2 linked regions of the Homo sapiens genome follow. The protein of the gene in region 2 interacts with the protein of the main gene of each other region in a biochemical or structural test. Each region holds a gene or a part of one and is shown on either strand. Other genes may lie near its edges. The genes, in order: SRPK2 and F5.

What was found.
Region 1: of the proteins of F5 (region 2) and SRPK2, one has a biochemical effect on the other in vitro, tested with the Homo sapiens proteins (one large-scale study listed by BioGRID).

The regions. Positions count from the first base shown.
Region 1 is NC_000007.14:105,126,904-105,130,724, reverse strand, and holds part of SRPK2 (SRSF protein kinase 2), read left to right. Parts: intron 1-1,832; exon of another isoform or gene 1,833-1,939; intron 1,940-3,662; coding exon 3,663-3,732; intron 3,733-3,821. UniProt on the Homo sapiens protein: Serine/arginine-rich protein-specific kinase which specifically phosphorylates its substrates at serine residues located in regions rich in arginine/serine dipeptides, known as RS domains and is involved in the phosphorylation of SR splicing factors and the regulation of splicing.
Region 2 is NC_000001.11:169,537,783-169,541,603, reverse strand, and holds part of F5 (coagulation factor V preproprotein), read left to right. Parts: coding exon 1-1,310; intron 1,311-3,821. UniProt on the Homo sapiens protein: Central regulator of hemostasis. It serves as a critical cofactor for the prothrombinase activity of factor Xa that results in the activation of prothrombin to thrombin.

The sequences.
Region 1 (3,821 bases), on a different chromosome or scaffold from region 2:
GAGAACCTAGGAGCAATGAGGCAGTTTTTCTTACCTCATCGTTCTGTTGTAGTGTAAAAATAGGACATTTAATATATTAAATTTGACCTCATAATACCAAGCTGTCATAAGGCCACAGATGGTTCTTGGTGGTAAAGCCTATATATAGTCTTTGAGGGTTTTGTTTGTTTGTTTGGAGACAAGGTCTTGCTCTGTTCCCCAAGCTGAAGTGCAGTGGCAGGACTATAGTTCACTGCAGACTCCACTTCCCAAGCTCAAGTGATCCTCCCACCTCAGCCTCTGGTGTAGCTGGGACTACAGGCACATGCCACCACGCCTGGCTAATTTTTGTATTTTTTGTAGAGATGGAGTTTGTCACGTTGTCTAGGCTGGTCTTGATCTCCTGAGCTCAAGTGATCCACCCGCCCTGGTCTCCCATAGTGCTGGGATTACAGGGATGTGACACTGTGCCCGGCTGTCTTTGAGATTTATAAATAGCATCAAATCTCACAGAGACTCTGTTGGGAATGAGAGCTGACGGGTGGTAGCCATTGGCTATTGTCAGGGAGGACAGCTTTAGGCTCTGCAGCTGGAGAAGCACAACAGAATGAGGGACCACAGCAAGGGTATGTTGGGTTTGGATCTGTTTTACTTTTCTTGAGTTTTACTTTTTTTTTGAGCTTTACACCTTCCAGTGTAAGTACATATAATCTGAAACTTCTTTGTGGCTGAAGCATTGGTTTCTCTGCATTTATGTATTAGAGTCTCTGATAGGACTTTTTATGAACTCCATGGTGAGTCCTGGTCAGTGCCATAGAAACAAGAAAAGCCATTCCAACAAACTTCACCAGACTTCTTCGGCACTGGTCACATTACAGAACAAATACGTGATCTTATTTGTTCAGAATCGGGATACTTCAGCATAGGAGAATGTTTTAGGAGAGAGGTAGTTGGTCTCCCAAGAATCTGGAAACAAGTAGGTCCAGGGAAGAGCCCTTTGAGGGGATTGAGCCAAGTAGAGAAGAATCCGGAGTTCCCAGGTATTAAAAATAATAATAAAGATTATACTTAGGCCCAGCGAGGTGATGCACACCTGTAATCCCAGCACTTTGGGAGGCCAAGGCAGGCAGATCACTTGAGGCCAGGAGTTTGAGACCAGCCTGGCCAACATGGCAAAACCCCATCTCTACTGAAAATACAAAAATTAGCTGGGCATGGTGGCACGTGCCTATAGTCCTAGCTACTCAGGTGGCTGAGGCAGGAGAATCGCTTGAACCCAGGAGGCAGAGGTTGTAGTGAGCCAAAATTGTGCCGCTGCACTCAGCCTGGGCAATAGAAGGTTATACTGGGAGTAACTGAGTTGAAGGCAGAGTTTTTTTCATTGTAATGTGCATTTGCCCTGTTGTACATGTTGTATTGTTAAGAGAATCTTGCCACTCTCCAAAGAATCAAAAATGGGTAGCATTACAGCCTTCATCTTCCTTGTTCCTTTAAAAAAAAAGAAAATTATTTGGCCGGGCTTGGTGGCTCACGCCTGTAATCCCAGCACTTTGGGAGGCCGAGGCAGGCGGGTCACGAGGTCAGGCTAACATGGTGAAATCCCGTCTCTACAAAAAATTAGCCGGGCGTGGTGGCGGGCGCCTGTAGTCCCAGCTACTCAGGAGGCTGAGGCAAGGAGAATGGTGTGAGCTTGCAGTGAGCTGAGATTGATTGTGCCACTGCACTCCAGCCTGGGTGACAGAGCGAGACTCCGTCTCAAAAAAAAATTATTTCATTGATTGGCTTCTATACATGTTTTCTTGGGAATATGTGGGTGCTAATCAAAATGATGATTTTTTTCAAAGAATACATACCTGACATATTTTGGCAGTAAGAAATATGTACAAAGCTGGGTGCAGTGTAGTGCGCCTGTAGTCCCAGCTTCTCTGGAGGCTGAGAGAGGATCACTGGAGCCCAAGAGGTTGAGTCCAGCCTGGACAACATAGCGAGGTCCCTTCTCTAAAAAATATGAAAGAAAAAGAAATATATGCAACCAGATTGAAGTCATTTTGAAAATTAATTAAAAGAGTTAGTTAGCATAGGGCTCAAGGCAGGGGTTGAAAAGCAGCTTGGAACTTGATCCAGGCTTTTCAAGTCCTCGTTGTCCCATTAGAGTTTTCAGATTTTTCTCTTAGCTTGTAAGATACTGAATTGATTGTTTCCCAGGCTAGAAGGACTCTCCTGGCCATTGAGTGTGTAATCTAGTTGTTCCACTTGGATTTGGGGCCAGTTATGAGGTTTTCCTGCCCTCATCTGGGATTGGCCCAACTGTCTTCTTTGTTTATTGGGTGGAAAGGAGAGGCCCTACATAAGGGCTTTCCTGGGTTTTCTGCTGGTGCCTTCGTGCATCCACAGTGCTGGGACCACCAGCTCACCATGCTGAGATGTGACATGTCCGTGTCTTGCTCAGACCTATGCCAGGTTCAGGGCAGGGATCCTGAGTTCATAAATTAATGCTTATCGCTCGGTCAGCTGGAAGCCATCTTGTCACCATCCTTCCTTCCTTCAAGTGATTGACAGGCAGTCTTTTTTTTTAAAAAAGGTGAAAAGATGTGGTCCTGGGCTGACTGCACTCACTCTTGGTTTGTTAAAGACAGTGCCAGGAGAGGTGGCCCCTCACCCAGGCAGGTGAGCCTTCCCTTAAAGGTGCCTTTCCAGCACTGTGTGGTCATTGAAAGAAAAAGAAGGTAGGTTGATGCAGTGAAGTTTCCCCAGTATTGGCTCCTTGGGGCGGGAATGGGGAGGGCAGTCACAGATCCACAGGCATCAGTGATTGGGCCTCTGAGCACCTTTTGGGACAGCAAGATCCGTTCAGAATAGAAGCAGCTATGAGAAAAACCAGAAATGGGATTTAGCTTATTCTTTTTTTCTCTTTTAAAACATTCTCTTTGATCAGCAGAGCAGTAGCAGTTGCCATTTTTGTATATTGTTACTAGCTTAAACTCATGTTTTTGAGGGTTTTTTTGTGAGCAAGGGAAATGTGTTCCCTACATGCTGGCATGCTGAGGGACAGCCAGTGGCCACCCAGGAAGCCAGTGCTCCGTGACATCCACAAAAGGGTCTGCAAGACCATCTGCTTCCTCTGGCCCTGGGGACAAAGAGGGTCTTTTTTGTTTCCAGGTTTTCCTTTGGTTGAATCAGAAATGAATGAAATGATGATGAAAATGGTTGATGAGATACTGAAAATAGTCCTTGGTTACTAAAACATGAAGGTCTTCGCCTAAAAGACGCAGCAGTGTCTGCTATACAGAGGCCAAGGCTATTATAGTGGTTGAGGCAGGTGCTGGAGTCAGACGGGCCTTGTTGAGTCCTGGGTTGAACTCTCGTTCTACCATTTATAGAGTGCATACCGCGCTCTGGCCAGGCCTGCATGCAGGTGCGGCTGACTCACTGACGTTTTGGTTTTGCTTCCTGCAAAATGAAGAGAATACATAGCTCTTATATCTTTCCTTAGAAATGTAAAAATACTTCTGAAACTTCTTTGAATGTGGAAGAAAGAAAAAAATTAGTATTGAGCACTTTCAGGAGGCTATTTTGTTTGATTCAGATCTTCATAAAGTGGCGGTCTCTTCTATAAGGAGAAAAAGCTGTTGACTTGGGGGCCAGTCTCTGAAGTGCTTAGCATGTCGTCTGTTGTATCCTAGGCATTTGAGCTGGCAACGGGAGATTATTTGTTTGAACCACATTCTGGGGAAGACTATTCCAGAGACGAAGGTGAGTATTGGTGCCTGCTGAATACCTCGGTCTAGGTCTTCTGCCAGCCCTGAACTTCTGTAGAGTACTGTATTTTTGTACTGAAATAG
Region 2 (3,821 bases):
CACAAGTCCTTCCCCACAGATATAAGTCAAATGTCCCCTTCCTCAGAACATGAAGTCTGGCAGACAGTCATCTCTCCAGACCTCAGCCAGGTGACCCTCTCTCCAGAACTCAGCCAGACAAACCTCTCTCCAGACCTCAGCCACACGACTCTCTCTCCAGAACTCATTCAGAGAAACCTTTCCCCAGCCCTCGGTCAGATGCCCATTTCTCCAGACCTCAGCCATACAACCCTTTCTCCAGACCTCAGCCATACAACCCTTTCTTTAGACCTCAGCCAGACAAACCTCTCTCCAGAACTCAGTCAGACAAACCTTTCTCCAGCCCTCGGTCAGATGCCCCTTTCTCCAGACCTCAGCCATACAACCCTTTCTCTAGACTTCAGCCAGACAAACCTCTCTCCAGAACTCAGCCATATGACTCTCTCTCCAGAACTCAGTCAGACAAACCTTTCCCCAGCCCTCGGTCAGATGCCCATTTCTCCAGACCTCAGCCATACAACCCTTTCTCTAGACTTCAGCCAGACAAACCTCTCTCCAGAACTCAGTCAAACAAACCTTTCCCCAGCCCTCGGTCAGATGCCCCTTTCTCCAGACCCCAGCCATACAACCCTTTCTCTAGACCTCAGCCAGACAAACCTCTCTCCAGAACTCAGTCAGACAAACCTTTCCCCAGACCTCAGTGAGATGCCCCTCTTTGCAGATCTCAGTCAAATTCCCCTTACCCCAGACCTCGACCAGATGACACTTTCTCCAGACCTTGGTGAGACAGATCTTTCCCCAAACTTTGGTCAGATGTCCCTTTCCCCAGACCTCAGCCAGGTGACTCTCTCTCCAGACATCAGTGACACCACCCTTCTCCCGGATCTCAGCCAGATATCACCTCCTCCAGACCTTGATCAGATATTCTACCCTTCTGAATCTAGTCAGTCATTGCTTCTTCAAGAATTTAATGAGTCTTTTCCTTATCCAGACCTTGGTCAGATGCCATCTCCTTCATCTCCTACTCTCAATGATACTTTTCTATCAAAGGAATTTAATCCACTGGTTATAGTGGGCCTCAGTAAAGATGGTACAGATTACATTGAGATCATTCCAAAGGAAGAGGTCCAGAGCAGTGAAGATGACTATGCTGAAATTGATTATGTGCCCTATGATGACCCCTACAAAACTGATGTTAGGACAAACATCAACTCCTCCAGAGATCCTGACAACATTGCAGCATGGTACCTCCGCAGCAACAATGGAAACAGAAGAAATTATTACATTGCTGCTGAAGAAATATCCTGGGATTATTCAGAATTTGTACAAAGGTTTGGCCAGTTTTCTCCTTTTTTATTCTCATTTTTCCATTACTGCTGAAAAAAGTAGCTACTACAATTCAGGGGGATAATTGTGGGCAAATTATACTAAGAACAGTGTGGTTCCCCTATTGCAAGTTGGCCTGTTCTTTTTCCTTTGTCAATTCCAAGATTGCTTCTTTACCTTAGATGACCCCTGGACAATATAAGAACAATCACTGTGAGAACTCTATAATATTCTGTAATTAAGCATTTTTCTGTGTCCTCTCCTCTTACTACCCATGTTTCTACTGACTCTTATTGCTCCAGGCAGAGCCCAACCTATCCATAGCTATATGCTAATCAATATGATTTAATTGAAGTTAGCCTCAAATCCAAACTCAAATATGATGTAGAAATCTCCTTTTTGCATTTACTTGTTTAGATCAGAATTTCTAAGAGATCCAAATCCCTTTTTTAAAAGAATATTTACAATTCAGTTTTGCTTAGGGGTAGAAAGCCATGTTGAACTGGGCTCTTTGTTCTGGGATGAAGATACAGAAAGAGAAGAGAGAGGAGGAAAGGAGCAAGGCTTAGTCAACTACAAATTCTCAGGGATATAGCATGATGACTGTGCATCAGCTGTCTAGATATGCCCACAGCTTTTACTAAAGCTGTTACACTAATCACTTAAAAAACCAAAGTGTAATTACAGTAGGCAAACACAATGTATGGTGTGACTTATGCATATGAGTTCATTAATCTGATGCCTGACATCTCCACATTAGAACTCTGTTTAAAACACCTTTTCCTATGACTTCCTATTTAAATGTTGCACTCAATACCACATGAGAACAACTAGCTACCTGAGTATTTCTAAGCAAGGCCCCGAGGGAGTGAGATGCAGGGCCTGTCCAGAGTGAATAGGGATGGAACCACCTTCAAAATCTTGTATTCCATTCAAGGCTCACAACCCACTTTTATGGCATTCGGAGTTGCTTTACCCACTCCCTTGTGTTCTGTGAGTTTGCATGTTATGCTCAGAGTCTGGAAAGATGGGATTAGTAGGGGAGGTAGACCAGAAGAAAGGCAGAAGGAGATTCTCTGTTGATGACTCACAGTATATAGCAAATATTATGGGTTTGATGGGTGAGTGTTTGGCTTGTTTCCACAGGCTTGGGAAATGTGAGAGTCAGTGGGAGAATTCGACATGCTTCAGTCCTAGACTGAGCCAATGAACTAGATGGAAATAATGTGCTTTATTTATTTATTTATAATTTGTAATTAAACTTTTTATTTTGGAACAAAAATAAAATAGATTCACATACAGTCAAGAGAAATAATACGGAGAGATCCTTTGGGTATCCTGAGTATTCTTTACCCAGTTTCTCCCAGGGGTAACATTTTGCAAATCTATAATACTATATCACAACCAGCACACTGATGTTGATACTGTCAAGACACAGAATGTTCACCATCACCATAAAAATCCCTCTCATTACCCCTTTATAGTCACATCTGCCTTCCTCCCACCATAGCCCTTCCTTATTCCCTGGCAACCAGTAGTCTGATCTCCATTTCTATAATTTTGTCATTTCAAGAATATTACATAAATGGAATCAGGCAACATGTAACCTTTGGGGACTGGTATTTTTTCACTCAGTATAATTCTCTGGAGATTCATCTGGTTATTGCATGTATTCCATTATATGGGTGTACCCCAGTTTTTTTGTTGTTGTTGTTTTATACACATTTATGGTGTAAACATGATGTTTTAATATATTTATAAATTGTGAATTGGCTAAATCAAGCTAATTAACCTATGCATTACCTCACATACTTTTTTGTGGTTAGAACACTTAAAATGTACTCAGCAATGTTAAAAATTCAGTGTGTTGTTATTAACTACAGTCACCATCTTATACAACAGATCTTCTAAATTTATTTCTTCTAACTGAATTTTATCTTTTGACCATTTTCTCAATGCTCCACCTCTGTATCCCTTTGTTAACCACTGTTCTACCTTCTGCTTCTATGAGCTCAATGTTTTTAGTTTCCACATTATAAGTGAGATCCTGCAGTACTTGTCTTTCTGTGCCTGGCTTATTTTATGTAACATAACGACCTCCTGGTTCAGTCATGTTGTCACAAATGGCATTTCTTCGTTTTCTTTTTTTTAAATGCTAAATAGTATTTCATTGTTTATGTAGATCACATTTAAGAAATCCATTCATTTGTTTATAGACATTTGGGTTGCTTCCCTATCTTGGCTAATGTGGCTAATGCTGCAGTGAACGTGGGACAGCAGATATCTCTTCAACATACTGATTTCATTTTCTTTGGGTATATACCCAAAAGTGGGATTGATGGATCATGTGGTAATTCTATTTTTAATTTTTAAAGGAACCTCCCATACTGTTTTCCATAATGGCTGTACTAATTTACACTCTCACCAAGAGTATACAAGAGTTCCCTTTTCTTCACATCCATGCCAACATTTATCTCTTGTCATTTTTATAATAGCCATCCTAACGGTGTGAGGTG